Homo sapiens: one gene and its partners. The protein of the gene in region 1 purifies or fractionates together with the protein of each later gene. This does not show direct contact. Each region holds a gene or a part of one and is shown on either strand. Other genes may lie near its edges.

The links.
Region 2: the proteins of STAT5A (region 1) and ADD3 purify together in Homo sapiens (affinity purification with mass spectrometry; one large-scale study listed by BioGRID and IntAct). This does not show direct contact.
Region 3: the proteins of STAT5A (region 1) and PDK2 purify together in Homo sapiens (affinity purification with mass spectrometry; 2 studies listed by BioGRID and IntAct, with this or other methods). This does not show direct contact.

Annotation. Positions count from the first base shown.
Region 1 is NC_000017.11:42,301,904-42,305,630, reverse strand, and holds part of STAT5A (signal transducer and activator of transcription 5A), read right to left. Parts: intron 1,290-3,727; coding exon 1,202-1,289; intron 1,102-1,201; coding exon 979-1,101; intron 22-978; coding exon 1-21. UniProt on the Homo sapiens protein: Carries out a dual function: signal transduction and activation of transcription. Mediates cellular responses to the cytokine KITLG/SCF and other growth factors. Mediates cellular responses to ERBB4.
Region 2 is NC_000010.11:110,129,946-110,133,213, reverse strand, and holds part of ADD3 (gamma-adducin), read right to left. Parts: intron 2,852-3,268; coding exon 2,728-2,851; intron 910-2,727; coding exon 814-909; intron 1-813. UniProt on the Homo sapiens protein: Membrane-cytoskeleton-associated protein that promotes the assembly of the spectrin-actin network. Plays a role in actin filament capping. Binds to calmodulin.
Region 3 is NC_000017.11:50,105,351-50,108,850, reverse strand, and holds part of PDK2 (pyruvate dehydrogenase kinase, isozyme 2 isoform 1 precursor), read right to left. Parts: intron 3,481-3,500; coding exon 3,409-3,480; intron 2,967-3,408; coding exon 2,782-2,966; coding exon of another isoform or gene 2,699-2,781; exon of another isoform or gene 2,480-2,698; intron 2,058-2,479; coding exon 1,968-2,057; intron 1,776-1,967; coding exon 1,698-1,775; intron 696-1,697; coding exon 619-695; intron 533-618; coding exon 434-532; intron 240-433; coding exon 132-239; intron 1-131. UniProt on the Homo sapiens protein: Kinase that plays a key role in the regulation of glucose and fatty acid metabolism and homeostasis via phosphorylation of the pyruvate dehydrogenase subunits PDHA1 and PDHA2.

The DNA of each region.
Region 1 (3,727 bases):
AACCACAGGTAGGGACAGAGTCTACAGGAGTCAAAGGAACCCAAGTTGATGGGGCGTGACCACCACGTGCCCTCTGCTTAGGCAACATGCCCAATCTGCTTTATTTTTTTTTATGTATTTTTTTTTTTGATATGGAGTTTCACTCTTGTTGCCCAGGCTGGAGTGCAATGGTGCAATCTCGGCTCACCACAACCTCTGCCTCCCGGGTTCAAGCGATTCTCCTGCCTCAGCTTCCCAAGTAGCTGGGATTACAGGCATGTGTCACCACACCTGGCTAATTTTGTATTTTTAGTAGAGACGGGGTTTCTCCATGTTGGTCAGGTTGATCTCGAACCCCTGACCTCAGGTGATCCACCCTCCTTGGCCTCCCAAAGTGCTGGGATTACAGGCAAGACCCACCACCCATGGCCGCAATCTGCTTTATTTTCTTCGAGACAGGGTCTCGCTCGGTCGCCCAGACTGGAGGGCAGTGGTGCAATCACAGCTCACTGCAGCCTTGACCTCCTGGGCTCAAGTGATCCTCCTGCCTCAGCCTCCAGAATAGCTGGGACTACAGGTGCAGGCCACCATGCCCAACTTTTTTCTTTTTTTTGTAGATACGGGTTCTCACTATGCTGCCCAGGCTAGTCTTGAACTCCTGGACTCAAGCAGTCCTCCCTCTTCTGCCTCCCAAAATGCTGGAATTACAGGTGAGAGCCACCACACCTGGTCCCAACCCACTTTCCTCACCCACAGTTCCAAACACAAGCCCCTCCCAGCAAAATGTAGGCACAAGCAAACAAACAAAAACTACAACCGACTTCTTCTTAGCCCATTGCCTAAATTGTCTGGGTTAGTCCCAGATTATAACCTATCAAACAGGGACCCACAGAGTCAAAGCAGGCTGTCCGATGGCATTGCTGCCAGGAGTCCTGAGGCAGGCCCCTCCACCTCTTGGGTGACCTGGAGCAGTGGGGGCAGGAGGGCTGGGGGTCTCACCTTCACCTGGAACACAAGCTCATTGCTGCCAACACTGAACTGAGACTCAAACAGGACTGTGAACTTCTCCTCTGTCACGGACTCTGCACCCCGCCGGTCAGCACGCTTGATCCTCTTCAGTGACTGCAGGGTGGGAGGTGACAGGGGAACAGGGAGATGGCGGCTGCTTACAAGGACTCAGCTCTGGGCAGACCTGCCCTCCGAGGGTGGGCCCCGTCCTCACCATGTTCCTGAAGTGGGCACTGAGGGTGCCCGTGGCTTGGTGGTACTCCATCACGCAGCAGTTGTTCAGGATCTCACCACTGCACTCGCTGCAAAGGAGAGGGGGGTCCCAGCTCCACATGGGCCCCAGGCCAGGAGCATGGTCCTGTCCACACCTCGGGCTGGGGTCTTCGCTCAGGTCAGCCCTGCCAGCAGCCCCTGCCCCGTATCCCCTAAGAGTGTTTCTTGGCGTCTTTCTGGGTTACTGACTTCTCCATCAACCTGGTGCCCAGCACCCAAGGCAAGGTCTCCAGTGGTGAGGTCTGGATCTATCATTAGAAATTCCTCGATACCAAGATTGATGTGAGGGCTTTGGGGACTTCCAATAGCTTCTAATGCACTTAAGATAAAAATCACAACCACAGTCTCTGAGGATCCCTATGGTCAACACCTACCCACCCCCCTGGCCTCACTGAATTCCTCTCCCCTCACTCAGGACATGCAAGCCCCGTTGGCCCTGGCTGTCTGCTGAACATGCCAGGCTTGGACATTGGCCCTTGCTCTTCCTGTCACCCCAAACACTCTTAGCCTTCTCCTCCTTCAGGTCTCAGCCCAGATAGCTCCCCAGAAAGGCCTTCCTGGACCACTTATCTGGAGAAGCTTACCAAGCTGACCTTTCCTCACCCCCGCCTTAAACACATCTCCAACGCTAGCAGATTGCTCTTTTTTCTTTTTTTTTTTGAGACAGAGCTTTGCTCTTTTTGCCCAGGCTGGAGTGCGATGGTGCAATCTCAGCTCACCACAACCTCCACCTCCCAGGTTCAAGTGATTCCACTGCCTTAGCCTCCCAAGTAGCTGGGACTACAGGCGCACACAACCATACCTGGCTAATTTTTGTATTTTTAGTAGAGATTGGATTTTGCCATGTTACTCAGGCTGGTTTCGAACTCCTGATCTCAAACGATCCTTCCACCTCAGCCTCTCAAAGTGCTGGGATTACAGGCGTGAGCCACTGTGCCCAGCCTAGATTGCTCTGTCTTAACTTCTTTTCCAGTGTCTATCACTGGTTGGCCCTGCCTGATCTTTTAAAGTGTATTATCATCAGTCTCCCCAGCTGCAATGCAAGCTCAAAGGCAGTGAGAAGGTCATTTGTCTTCATCTTCACCCCAGATCACATGGTAGGAAATCAGTAAACTTTTTTTTTTGAAACAGAGTCTTGCTTTTGTTGCCCAGGCTGGAGTGCAATGGCACAGTCTCGGCTCACTGCAACCTCCACCTCCTGGGTTTGAGGAATTCTCCTGCCTCAGCCTCCTGAGTAGCTGGGATTACAGGCTTCCACCACCATGCCCAGCTAATTTTTGTATTTTTAGTAGAGACGGGGTTTCACCATGTTGGCCAGGCTGGTCTCGAACTCCTGACCTCATGATCCGCCCGCTTGGGCCTCCCAAAGTGCTGGAATTACAGGCGTGAGCCACTGTGCCTGGCCTTTTTTTTTTTTTTAAACAGAGTCTTGCTCTGTCATAGGCTGGAGTGCAGTGGCACAATCTTGGCTCACTGCCACGTCCACCTCCGGGTTCAAGTGATTTTCTTGCCTCAGAGTAGTTGGTAGTTAGGACTAGAGGTCCAAGTAGCTGGAGCTACAGGTGTACGTTACCAAGCCTGGCTAATTTTTGTATTTTTAGTAGAGACAGGGTTTCACCATGGTGGCCAGGCTGGTCTCGAACTCCTGGCCTCAAGTGATCTGCCTGCCTCTACCTCCCAAAGTGCTGGGATTACAGGCGTGAGCCACCTCGCCCAGCCTCAGTAAACATTTTTAATTGGATGACAAGGGATGGGGCCATGTCTTCCACATCACTCATTCACTCATTTATTCATCCCCTGCATACGCTGTGGGTGGCCTGCCCTGACACTGGACACTACTTCTCCACTCTCTGCTACACATAATGTCTCTGTACTCTTCCCTCAGGATGTGGCACATGGGCTCTGCCTGAAAGTCCTCCCTCTCTGCTACTTCCCTCCCTATCACTAGCTACCTCCAATTCCACCAGGAGCCTAAGACTGTCATTTCTTTAATCCTGCAAGAAGACCCCCTTTCTCGGTGCCCTACACATCCCCCTGCCACATGGCTACACCATCAGGCATTTCCCAGCATCTGCTGCCTGCTCTGCTGCTCAAGGGGCTGGGCGAGAAGACAGCCCAGTTCTGTTGGGATCACAGTTTTGTCCTCAGTGCGTAGCACAGGTTCTAGAACACAGCTACAACACCATACTTTGTGTGATTTTTTTGGAGACAGGGTCTCACCCTGTTGCCCAGGGTAGAGTGCCATGGCACAATCATACCTCACTGTAGTATCAAATTCCTAGGCTCAAATGATCCTACCACCTCAGCTTCCCGAGTAGCTGGGACTACAAGTGCGTGCACCACCATGCCCAGCTAATTTTAAAACTTTTTGTAGCGATGAGGGTCTCCCTATATTGTCCAACTCAAACTTTTGGGCTCAAGTGATCCTCCGACCGTGGCCTCCCAAAGTGCTGGGATTACAGGGGTA
Region 2 (3,268 bases), on another chromosome or scaffold:
GAAGACAGATCATTATTTTAATAAACTGTGATCTATTAGCAAGAAGCTAATTTTCTTTAATGATATAAAGGGGAAAGGAACAAAGTTGTTAAACCAAAGAGCAAAAGCTAGATAATCCCAGTTTGATGAAATAACAGTTTCATTGTAAATCAATTAAGTATAAATGAGGAAGACAACATATTTTTCTCTAGTTTTGGGATCATTTGGCAATCAATACTGAAAAAGATTTCATGCTGCTGATTGGGAGATGTTTAATTCCACAAATTCTTTTTTTTTTTTTTTTTTTTTTGAGGCGGAGTCTCACTCTGTCGCCCAGGCCGGAGTGCAGTGGCAGTCTTGGCTCACTGCCAGCTCCACCTCCCGTGTTCATGCCATTCTCCTGCCTCAGCCTCCCGAGTAGCTGGGACTACAGGCGCCCGCCACCACACCCAGCTAATTTTTTGTATTTTTAGTAGAGACAGGGTTTCACCGTGTTAGCCAGGATGGTCTTGATCTCCTGACCTCGTGATCCACCTGCCTCAGCCTCCCAAAGTGCTGGGATTACAGGTGTGAGCCACCGCGCCCAGCCAATTCCACAAATTCTTAAGAACTGCGGGTTGCCAAAATTCAGATTAAGGTAAATCAATATAAATGCTGAACAAAAGTAGCGCCCCATTTTTAATGATATAAAATATGTAATTATTGGGAGATATAAGTAAAATATGGAAAACTTACTGTGATGAGGTATTCAACTTCCTCACGTGAAAACAAAACACAGAGGGACAGACTCAAGACTAACTCAGTGAATGCTATGTGGGAAATTACATTGAGTACCTTCTAATTTTTCAGGGACATTTTGCGGTGACTGAGTTTGAGACTGAATTTGTGAAACAGATGAAGCGTCATCTGAGAGTAATTCCTGCTCAGCATCTGTTGGATAAGAGTTTAGTTAAAAGCCATGCAAAACAAAACAAAGCAGCATATGATTTTAGGGAGGTTAGTGCATACATCAAATGCCTGTATACAAAGAGATGATAAATTCTTCAGCAGTGAGCTGAGCATGCTAACAGTTATCCCATATATCCATAATTATACATTAAGAGGAGGTTAATGTGTTAACATTTCTGGCTGCTAATGGTTATTTTACGTACAGGTTACAAAAGATGCACAGCTGCTGGCAGCCCAGGCAAATGATATGTTGCATGTAGCTCTTGCTAGCATTAGAAAACCAAAACATACTGCGCAGACAGATGAAAAAAATTATAAAGCCTCACCAATGATGCTACATTAATGAGGCAGAATGCTTCACAGAATTTTTGAACAATATTTAATTAGTGATACCTGTCAGAGCAATGTTACTGAGCTAATTCATAAGGTCATAATAAATGTGGAAGAAACTACTATAAAGTTATATAAAAAAGGTGACGGTTCTAGAGTGCAACATTTGTTACCTGGCATCTTTAGGCTTTCAAAAAACAAGAGATTAAAGAGGGATATTTTACAAAATATGAAAAACAGAGAAAGCTCCCAACTTTATGTTAGAATAAACAAATTCAATAACACCATTTAGAAAATTTAGTATAATTACATTAATGAATCAGGACAACTCCCTTTTGTGACAAAGGCACAAAAAACTGTTCCTTGGATGATCAAGATGTCATTAGTTCTTCCTAAATGATATCTAACATGGACAAAAATTCATTAACTATTGGCTTATTTTGCTTTGCATGAAAATTTCAACTGTATGTTGTGGATGCTCTAAAGCAGAGGCTCCTTACCCTCTTTTTGGGTGACAGGCTTGTTCCTGACCCTGAACCCTTCCCTCCCTAAATGTGTACCTTAAACAATAAAGCATGTATTTTTCAGGTGGCTCATGGACTGCCTGAAGCTTATCCAAAGACTCAAGATAGAGAACTCCTGCTAGGAAGAATCTCTTATTCCAGAGAAAAAGGGAGCTAGTAGTCAATTGTTTAAGATGTTTTCATTAACAAGTCTTAAATATAATCCTAACAATCTACTTACTAAGGGTTCCAAAGCCAGAAAACTCAACCTACTAGAGTGTCCGTGTGCTTAAGGAAAGTCACATCAAAATTTTAGCAGTTAGTTTTAAATTTTGAAGTGACAATGTTGGCACCTTGAGATAACCAGAAATAGAGATTTTACAAAGCATCAAAACTACATACTTATGAATCTGTAATTATTTAAAATTAAGAGAGTTAAAAAGCCACATAATTATGAAATGTTTAAATCCATTAATTTATCTACATCTACTTTGGCTAGTAATTCTTTACTCATCTGGGAATCTCACTTTCTAGAAGATTTTACTATAAAATAGTAGCATTCAGATTGTTTTTTTTCTTTTTCTGTTTTTTTTTTTTTGAGACGGAGTCTCTCTCTGTCGCCCAGGCTGCAGTGCAGTGGTGCGATCTCAGCTCACTGCAACCTCTGCCTCCCAGGTTCAAGCGATTCTCCTGCCTCAGCCACCAGAGTAGCTAGGACTACAGGCGTGTACCACCATGCCCGGCTAATTTTTTAATTTTTAATAGAGACGGGGTTTCACCATGTTGGCCAGGCTGGTCTCAAACTCCTGACCTCAAGCAATCCACCTGCCTTGGTCTCCCAAAGTGCTGGGATTACAGGTGTGAGCCATTGTGCCCGGCCACACTGACTGCTTTCTATCATCCAACGTGAGGTACTTTATTGTTATCAGTGTGGCTTACCCTAGGTTGAATGTAAAGATTAACTAACCTTCTAGGCCTTGTTGTTTACGTTCGATTGTCCTCTTATACTCTTCAAGTTCTCCTTCTGTGAGATGACTAAATGGGTTAGGAGGAGCTGGTGGGCCATGATCATCATCTTCAAATTGCATAGTCTTACAAAGAAAAAATAAAAATCGATTCATTACCAAGAGTTTTACTTATATATCTATCCATCCATCCATCTATATACACATAAATGCAAATATGATGTTTGTGAAGCCTTATTTCACAACAATCCTAAGAAATGCAAGGTAACATGCTTTGTTTAAAATGCTCTTGTAAGATTGATGCCCTTAAACTACTAATCCAATGGACTAAAATTGCCAGTGATATTTCCTCAATAAGCCTGTATAAGTAAATCTTAATAATTTTTAAAAACCATTATGCCAAGTTCTAATAAGTTTCACATAAAAAAAACTTGAAAAAAACAAGAATTGCTCCATTTTAAAGACCACTGTAAAAAAGGCTTACAGAAATGAAACTGTACCAAAAGTAGTTCTTTAAATCTGTTACGAAAATAAGCTTGTAGC
Region 3 (3,500 bases), 7.8 Mb from region 1:
GGGCCCAGATTCAAGACAGGTGACTGTCACAGACGGCCACACAGAAGCTGAGTGAGCAGGGAGATAAGGAAGTGAGTGAGGAGAGAAGCCTCCCTCAGGAGGTGGGAGGGGCTGGGGTGAAGCCATCTCACCAGCGGCGTTCCCCCGGTGCCAGGCTGGGGGGTGGGTGCTGTGGAGTACATGTAGCTGAAGAGTCGCTCAATCTTCCTCAAGGGAACACCCCCACCTCGGTCACTCATCTGGGAGAGATGGGATGTGTCAGGGATTCTTTACAGCTCATTTTCCCCACCCCGCCCAATACCCCTGACCTTCTCATGGTCTTCCCCACCCCCAGGATCTGCCCACCATGTAGGAGAAAAGGAAAGCCCGTCTCCTGGCAGGAGGGAAGCCCCCACTACTGCTCCCTGGTCCCCAAGGTCAAAGGGTCACATACCTTGATGGACAGATCTTCCTCACCCAAGGCCACCATGACCTTGATGGGTGGGAGAATGAGGCTGGACTCATGGCTTTCCACAGTCGCCCTCATGGCATTCTGCGGAGGGGCAGAGGTAAGAGATGCATGGGAGAAGCCAGCCCTACTCACGCTCCCCGCAAAGCACCGGCTCCCAGCCTCCTCACCTTGAAGAGCTCAAAGAGCATGTGGTAGAGGTGGGAGGGGACGTAGACCATGTGAATCGGCTGTTTGGAGTTGGCTGCTACAGGGCAAGTCAAGACCAAGGGTCAGGAAACCGTCAGGAGGTCACTGCTCAACCACCTTACCCAAAGGAGGCACCCCCTCCCACAAAGTTCTGAGTACATGGCTGCCCAGCGAGAGACTAAATCCCCAGCCTCCCTTGAGCTGGGGTAGCTGGTGACTCATGGAAGTGATGCATTCAATTCTTGGGCCCTGCTTTCCACACCCTTGTTCCCTTCCTCCAGGCTAGAACTGAATCAGGGGTGGGGAGCCAGCCCTGACCTGTCCAGCAAGGGGCTGGCGAGAGGGAAACCTCCCTCTTAAGTAAGCCACTGGTATTGGGGTTCTAGGAAAGCAGCCAAGCTGATACACCATCTAACATGCCCCTCCTCCCTACCCCTGTTGAGTTACCCCATTTTATTTCCTTCCCATCACTTGTCATGATCTGAGATGGTCTTGTTTATTTACTTGTTAATTGGCTGAAGGCTCCATTCCGCAATCTCCCTAGCACCAAAAATGTAAGGTCCACGAGAATGGGGACCATTTCTGTCTTGCTTACTCTTTCATTCATTCATTCACTCAATTTCTTATTTGTTTGAGATGAAGTCTCGCTCTGTCACCCAGGCTGGAGTGCAGTGGTAGCATCTCAGCTCACGGCAGTCTCAGCCTCCCGGGTTCAAGTGATTCTCCTGTCTCAGCCTTCCAAGTAGCTGGGATTATAAGCATGTGCCATCATGCCCGGCTAATTTTTGTATTTTTAGTAGAGACAGGGTTTCACCATGTTGCCGAGGCCGGTCTCAAACTCCTGACCTCAAGTGATTGGCCTGCCTTAGCTTCCCAAAGTGCTGAGATTACAGGTGTGAGCCACTGTGCCCAGCCCAAATATTTATCAAATGAATTAATAATATAATAACTCTGCTTCTCCCCTGTCTAGAAAACAGTCCATCTCCTGACTCCCCGTCTCACCTTGCCCTGCCACGTCCCCAGCCCCAAGACAGACACATACACAGCCCCGCTCACTCACCATTGATCTCCTGGATCTCCAGGTCAGGTGAGGCCATGTAATACTTGTCACACAGGAGCTTAGCCATGTCGTAGGCATCTGAGAGAAGATGGGGTCATTCAGGGCATGGGTGGCCCACCCAGCAGGCAGTCCTCCTGACATTGATACTGGGGACCACCAGCATTAAATCCATGGCACCCCTTACTGAGGAACGAGTCACCCTCTGGCCAGGTAAGCTTGGAGGGGTCCCCGGGGCTTCTCTGCGGGCCAGGCACCGTGGGAATGGCTCACCTTTGACCACCTCAGAGACGTTGCAGTTGGGGTCGATGCTGCCGATGTGTTTGGGATGGGCTGGGTTGGTGCTGCCATCAAAGATGAGGGCTGCAGGCAGGAAGGGAGGATGCTGTTGGCTGGGCTGCAGTCTGTCCCAGCGCTCCCTCTTCCCCCGGGCTTTCCTCCTCTTTCTACTTTCACCTCCAATGCCTCTGTAGGCTCCAGTCCTAAAGCTGCCCCACTCCCCCGCTTCTGTCCTCCCTTCCCTGACCCCTGACCCCTCCAGCCCTGGCTTAGGCCGTTTTTAAACCTTTGCAAACCTGAAACAGACGTCTTTTCAGAGGTCTCTCCCCACATCACATCTCCACATTGCATTTATTCTTTTCTTTGACTATAACATTCTAAGAGAACTCTTACCACCTTGCTTTGGAAATTATTTGAGCATGAGGAACTTGTTTAATTTATGACTGGCTACAACTTCTCAAAAATCATAGTGAATCCTCCTGGAATAAGAAACTCTAAACAACAAATTGTTTTTGAACATAATGAGAGTTTTTATAAATACTAAATTAAACATTCTTTTAAAGATGTGACATAATTTTACATTTTGCAAACACTGAAAACAAAACGTTTTGAAATGGAAAATCAATGAGAAAGAAAAATTTTATTTTTCCATGTTGGAGCCATTAACTCCATAGTTACTGGAGTAACTATTCAAAGACTCCCTTTGTGGGGTTCTGAAGAGTGGTCTAGGTCCCCTCAGCAGCCCGGCCCTGGGCCCCAGCACCGCCCCCCCCACCGCCCGCTCCCCGCCGCTGTGGCCGGCACCCACTGTGCTGGTTGATGAGCATGCGGATGGAGATGCGGCTGAGGTAGAAGCGGTCCAGGAAGTACTGGATGTTCTGGTTGGAGACGGGGTCATCGCCGTAGGTGTCCTTGTACTCAAGCACGCCTTGTGCCATGGTGGGCACCACGTCGTTGTGCCGGTTCCGGATGGTGACCAGGGCGTCAGTGAACCTGTGGGGCAGGGCAGATGTTCACATGGGACACCCCCAGACTCTTCTCCGCTTCTGACTCCCCTCTCCACGGTGTCTTCACCCGCTCTACCCTTCCCAATCCGATGGACTCCCAGTGCCCTCCCTGCTCCTCCCAAAGCCCACTCTGATCTTTTAGCTGCCTGCCGGCAGGCTTCCCACTCGAAAGCCCAGAGTTCTCATCCTCCCCATGGCAGGGCCTGGGTCTTGCCCACCGGGCTCAGGGAACAGTGAGAATGGAGTCCATGTCTCTCCCATCAAACTTGGGGCTCCCTGAAGCAGAGTCTGTCTCCCCACTCAGACTGGATGTTTCTGAAGGCAGGGGTCTTTTCTTCCATCCTGCTGTACTTCTGCCCCAGGGGCTGCAACCCCAGATGCCCCTGGCCAACACCTGCCTTCCTGCCCCACCCAGGGCCCCCACTCACTGGCTCAGGGTGCGATGGTCCTCGGGATCCTTGTCCAGGAACTCCATGATGTCCAGGAGGCTCTGGACATACCTGTGTGGGGGCGGGAGGGG